Linked DNA regions of Homo sapiens: region 2 is linked to region 1. The links come from fine-mapping of genetic effects on gene expression. A gene starts in region 1. The other region holds a variant in brackets. All regions are shown on one strand. Distances are between the middles of the regions.

The links. PIP is the estimated chance that this variant, and not a neighbour inherited with it, causes the effect. A credible set is the group of variants that fine-mapping cannot tell apart.
Region 2: its variant is the best candidate, but not a certain one, in a credible set for the expression of RAB15 in whole blood (TOPMed, PIP 0.61).

What each region holds. Positions count from the first base shown.
Region 1 is chr14:64,970,649-64,973,551 of GRCh38, reverse strand. RAB15 (RAB15, member RAS oncogene family) reads left to right here and starts at 1,216. Exons shown (of 7, transcript NM_001308154.2): 1 at 1,216-1,599. The coding sequence starts at 1,476. All of the region lies in intron 3 of CHURC1-FNTB (CHURC1-FNTB readthrough), which reads right to left. RefSeq lists a silencer at 1,054-1,423.
Region 2 is chr14:64,935,406-64,938,308 of GRCh38, reverse strand. All of the region lies in intron 3 of CHURC1-FNTB (CHURC1-FNTB readthrough), which reads right to left. Among named protein-coding and RNA genes, the nearest start is that of GPX2, 5.9 kb to the left of the region's middle. The variant A/G (reference allele first, on the strand shown) is at 1,123.

The DNA.
Region 1 (2,903 bases):
TATGTACATATATACTTTTCATTGCTTTTTTTTTTTTTTTTTTGAGACAAGGTCTCCCTCTGTTGCGCAGGCTGGAGTGCAGTGTCATGATCTCGGCTCACTGCAGCCTTCCCCTAATGGGTTCAAGCAATCCTCCCACCTCAGCCTCTCAAGCCTGGGATTACAGGCGAGCCACCGTGCCCAGCTAATTTTTTTTTATTTTTAGTAGAGACTGGGTTTCACTACATTGGCCAGGCTGGTCTCCAGCTCCTGACCTCAAAGTGATCTGCCCGCCTCAGCCTCCCAAAGTACTGGGATTACAGGCATGAGCCAACGCGCCTAGCCTTTCATTGCTTTTTAAAGACCTAATAGGCTAGACTTTGCTCTCCCTCAATACTCGTTGGTAGGGATAGGCAATTTTCTCAACTCCGGAGAGCATTCATTTGCCTCTCTCCGGTGCTAACACATTCAGTGGTAGGAAACTGGATCTTGAACAAGGGCCATTCATTCTTTGGTGCCACTGGCTATACCACAGAGAAATTTAGGGGTCTGAAACAATACATTGGTCACCTGGGCACCTATCCTAAGCACCTTAGAGGGAAAACGGAGACTTGCCCGCACACCTCTAAAGGATTTTGCACTTGGAGATGTTCTTATGGCCATCTATCTTTTCACCCTGGTGGAGGCCGTGAATAGGCATTTTCCCCATTTAAAGAAAAAATGGGGACGGGGGAGGGCCGTGACACAGTCACACAGGTAAGGGGCAGCCAGATGGCAGGGAGGGGGAATTCCACCCACACTCTCGGGGACTCATGGAGACGGGTGTTCGAATCCAGATCCTGCTCAAGGCCTTCCTACCTCGGGTGAGCCCAGCTGAGGTACCAGCCACTGGGGAGCCCGGCCAGATCCTGCAGATGCAGGGTGCCACGGCGGGCGGAATTACCGGCGCCAGACTTGGGGTGGGATATGGGGAGAAGTGGTGAGCCCGGAAAGCGGAGCACGGTAGAAGTGGGCTGGGTGGGGGCTCACCTCAACTCCCCCATTCGGAGCGTCCGCGGAAAAACGAAAACGTTCCCCCGCCCCGGGCAGGAAGGGGTTGGGAGGGGGGGCTGGCGCCCCGCCCCAGCGTCGCCTGCTCGATGGGGTCCCGCTCTCCTGCGCGCGCTCCCCGCCCCCTCTCTCCGGGGCGGCGGCGGCGGCGCAGGGGAAGGGGCGGGCAGGGGCCGCCGCCGGTTTCTCCTCCCACCGCCTCGCGCCAGCCCAGCCGAGCCGAGCCGAGCCGAGCGGGCGCCGCGCCGGGCTCCCGCCGCAGCCGCGCTTCCCGGCACCCAGCGAGCGAGTGGGCAGGCGGGCGGGCGAGGCAGCCGCGGGGGCCGGGCCCGGCGTCCTCCTCGCCGCCCGCAGCGTCCCCGGGCGGGCGCGGGCCGCGATGGCAGCGGCGGAGCAGGGCTGAGCCCGCTGCCCGCCCGCAGTTCCCGGCCCCGCTGGCCCCAGTCATGGCGAAGCAGTACGATGTGCTGTTCCGGCTGCTGCTGATCGGGGACTCCGGGGTGGGCAAGACCTGCCTGCTGTGCCGCTTCACCGACAACGAGTTCCACTCCTCGCACATCTCCACCATCGGTAAGGGGCGGTGGCCCGGGGCGCCCCTCCCTCCCCGCCCGCGGCCCCTTTCCCCGCCGCCCCCGTCCCCAGCTGGGGAGGAATTGCCAGCCCCTCCGGCTGGAGGCGGTGGCGCCGGAGGCCGGAGTCCGGGATAAATCTCGGGGTGAGCATAGGTTTTGGCAGGTGAGGGTGTCCCTGCTGCCTGCCGTCCGGACCAGGGGTGGGGTCTCCCGCCTCTTGCCGGGAAGCCTTCCGTCCCATCAAACCGAGAAACCGGGGGTGAGGGGAGCTGGTGTAGGCCTGGGTACCCCGAGCTGGGGTAGCAAGAATCGTAGCCGCTGGAATAACATCCCCACACCCCCAGGGGGAGGGGAAGTAAAGCTTCTGCTACGGAAAAGGGGGTCAGGGTGGAGACCGGAGTCACTGAGGCGCCCTTGGTTCTGTGGTGACCCAAGGTGGAGCCGGCGGGGGGCGAGGGGGGGAAGAGAGGACGTACGGAGGGGCCACAGGGATCGAGTTTCCAGGGCAGAGTTGGGAAGGTAAGCCGCAAGGTGGGACACCTGGGGGAGGACACAGATAGGGTGAGGAGCCCCTGCGCCTGGGAAGAGGAGACATCTGTTCTGAGGGAGGCTAAAGAGGATGGAGGAGTGTCAGGAATACCTGCCCAGACCAAGGGGTCAGAAGGCAGGCAGGACCCGCCTGAGGGCATCTCTCATCTGGCAGTGCTGGAGCCTGTGGTTAGAGGGACAAGACCCGGTGGCATCCCAGACAGCACTATGATGGGGTCACTTATTCTAGGAATGGGTCCATGGCCTCCCCTCTGAGACAGTCAGTCTCCCGCTTCTAGGCTGTGAGGGGCCCCCTCCCTGAGAAGTCTGAGTAGAGGGAATTTCATCCTCAGCTGCTACCCGGGTCAGCCCTGGAGTAGCCTCTGCATTGCCCAGGCCCCTGGAAACACCTGCTGGCTGGCTGGTCATCCATTTGGAATGCTCTCCTAGAAGTCCCTGCTGCCATCAGGGATGGGCACCAGCTCTCAGCTTCCTCTTGAGGATTCATGTCCACACCATCCCCCCTCCCCCCAACACACATTCCTTGCTGAGAGAGAAGTAGGAGCAGATAGATACAGCCAGGAGGAACAGAACCTTCTGGTTAAGAAGCCAGCTTTATTGTCCAAGAGACCTGAGACCTCACTGTGGGGCAAAGCAACCTTGAATATTGCCTAAACTTCTGAGCTTTATTTAGTTTCTCATCTGTAGAACGGGTATAATAATTGCACCTACCTGCCAAGTTGTTGTCAAGATTAAATGAGATAACGATTGTTA
Region 2 (2,903 bases), 35 kb after region 1:
TCACATTACACCCTCATTCTTCTCAAAATCACATATTCACAAATTCAGGCTCCAGACAAATAGAGGCAGGAATGACTGGACTCATTTCTTCCTCTGTAAGAAGGAAGGGGTTGGGGATGGGAGAGAGCCTCCCTTCAGAGTCAGGCTGTTTATAATCTGCCATTTGCAACATCATTATTCCTCACTGTGAGGACAGTTTTGCTCAGAGGCCTTGCAAGGATGGTGTCCCCAATTCCTCATCCAGTGCAGACATAATCAAAACATATCACCACCGCCAAGGTCAGGTTCTATCATGTTCTGGAAAAGATACCTGCTGAGAGGCCACTGCCTGTCACCTTGCCCCACAGACCTCATCCTGGAAACTTCTCATTTCATCTTCCCTTCTTTGACCACTAGATGGAATATTTTCACTTCTATTCACTGAAACCCTGAAGGGACAGTTTTCCAAACTGGACACACTGCTTGAGAAGCCCAATGCTGAAGGGAAAATGTTTTTCCTTTAATTGTTCTGCTTACCCTAACCATTTTCTAAGCACTTGCATCATATGAGAGTGAATGTGGAATAGATGTTTAGGATCCCCACTTTCTGACCTTCAACTAAACCTGTCAACAACAGTGCTTTATTTCAAAAGGGTAACCTGAGTATTACAGTGGGAATCCCCTGACACCTTTCTGCAGGGCCTTCTGCTAACTTAAGGCTACCCTTACCTTCACTCTTGAAACCTCAAGCCTTTCAGATTCCTGCTCTTAAAGTCAACAGCTGGGGTATGAATTATTATGGGGCAGGACCATGTACTGATTTTAGAGCAGTAACTGCAGACAAATTGCTTTCCTGACAAAATAGAGAATTCTTCTTGGATGCTAGTCATCACCTTGACAGTACCATAGCCTGTTGTTACATCCAGTAACAGAGCCAGCTATCTCGGGTGTTGGAAACATGCCACAGGCAACTTAGAGCCTGAGACACCAGTACAATGTGTTCAGTCTTTCCCTTGAGGCCCAAGTTCAAAGAATTATTTAGGGATTCCCAAAGGAATGGGAATTACAGTATAAGTTATTCTGCAGAAAGTCAAGAGAAGGCCATAAAGCTAGAATGAAGGCTCTTCACTTGGGAGGGGAAAC[A/G]CTATTTGCTTCAGACAGAACCTGATCTATTCAGCTCAGGAGGAAACAGGGAAGGCAAGACTGGAAGATTCTATTTTAAAAGGATGTTTAGGTTTACCAAATATTTAGTTGTGCTGTTGTTAAAATGAAGAGAAATTAGAAAGTGTTTCCTTTCCTTTATTCTTCATCTTGTTTGTCCCCCTTATCATCCTCAGAAGTATTAGCTTGTGATCATAAACAGACAAGGCAAAGCTTTAAAATATCACCCACTTTTCTAGATAAACAAAAATCTTTTAATCAGATTTCCCTAGGGGCACCCAGAAGGAGGGGGAAGTCTCCTTAACAACTCTCCCAGAAGTGCTGAGATAATGCTATTCAACTCAGAGGAGGGACAGAGAGAATCACTAACCTGAGGGCTCTTACAAAAACAAAAAACAAAACAAAAAAACCAGAGCTTGGAACAAGTGATTTTAGGAGGCCAGGGTAAAGACACTGAAATCGATAATTATCTTCATGACTATGTTCCCATAGCTATCTCTCCTTAGTTTATGAGACACTGAGGCCCAGTATGGTGGCTCAAGCCTATAATCCCAACACTTTGGGAAGTTGAGGCGGGAAGATGGCCTGAGCCCAGGAGCTCACTATGTAGCCTGGGCTACACAGTGAGACCTCGTCTCTACAAAAAATTAAAAAAAAAAAAAAAAAATCGGCTGAGCATGGTGATGTACACCTGTAATGGTTTCAGCTACTCAGGCAGCTAGGGTGGGAGAATTGCTTGCGCCTGGGAGTTCGAGGCTGCAGTGAGCTATGATTGCACCACTGCACTCCAGCCTGGATGAGACCTTGTCTCAAAAACACTGAGTCAAACTCTAGAACTTTATTATAATCACCATCACAACCATCATCCAAACTACCATTCATTTAATATTTACTATGGGCACAGACTGGGCTAGGTACTTTATATACACTAGGTTATTTAACCCTCATAGAGATCCCATGAAAAATTGTTATTTCTATTAAAAGAAAAGGTAATTGGGCAAGACACTTGCCAAGGACACACAGCTTAGGAAGCAGCAAAGCTGAAAGTTAAAGCCAGGTCAGTCTGACTCCAAAGCCTCTACTCTTAACCATAACACAACAGTGCTTTCTTCTAGCTCAGATTTTTCTTCATAAAGACCACTGACAGCTGCCTGCACACAGCATTAGATTTAAAAATCATTAGATTTAAAAATTCTGTGGAGGCATGATGGTTTCTAGTTTTCCACTGAAGACACTGAGGTACAGACAGGATAAGTGACTTGCTCAGTGTCCCATCATTAGCAGGTGACAAAGCTAATTCTAGACCCAGATCTTTTAATTCCTTTTCTATCCAACTATACTGTATCTTACAACAGTCTTGTACTACAGTAAAAAAAAAACATACATTTTTAAATTGAGCGCCTCAAATAACTAGCCCTGCTCACAACATGAAAGAATGAAACCGAAAGGACTTTTGATACACTGAAATAAAGGACAGTGAACATAAACCTCTTCATGGTAACTTACAAATAACAAGCCATATCTGGTTGTGCCCAAGCTATCTGATGTCAATTAAATTAGTACTGGGAGAACCTAAAACCATGTGAGAAAGAGCTAGATCAAACAAAACAACAAATAGTGGCTGAGCTTTTAACTTCAGGAGCCTAACTAGCCAGACCTGTACATCACAGAATGATTAGAGAAAAAGGAGGTGCCAAGATAAGCCCACGTTTCCAATTATCCCCATGTTTCCAATTATCCCCACAGGTGATTTCTCTTCCTTC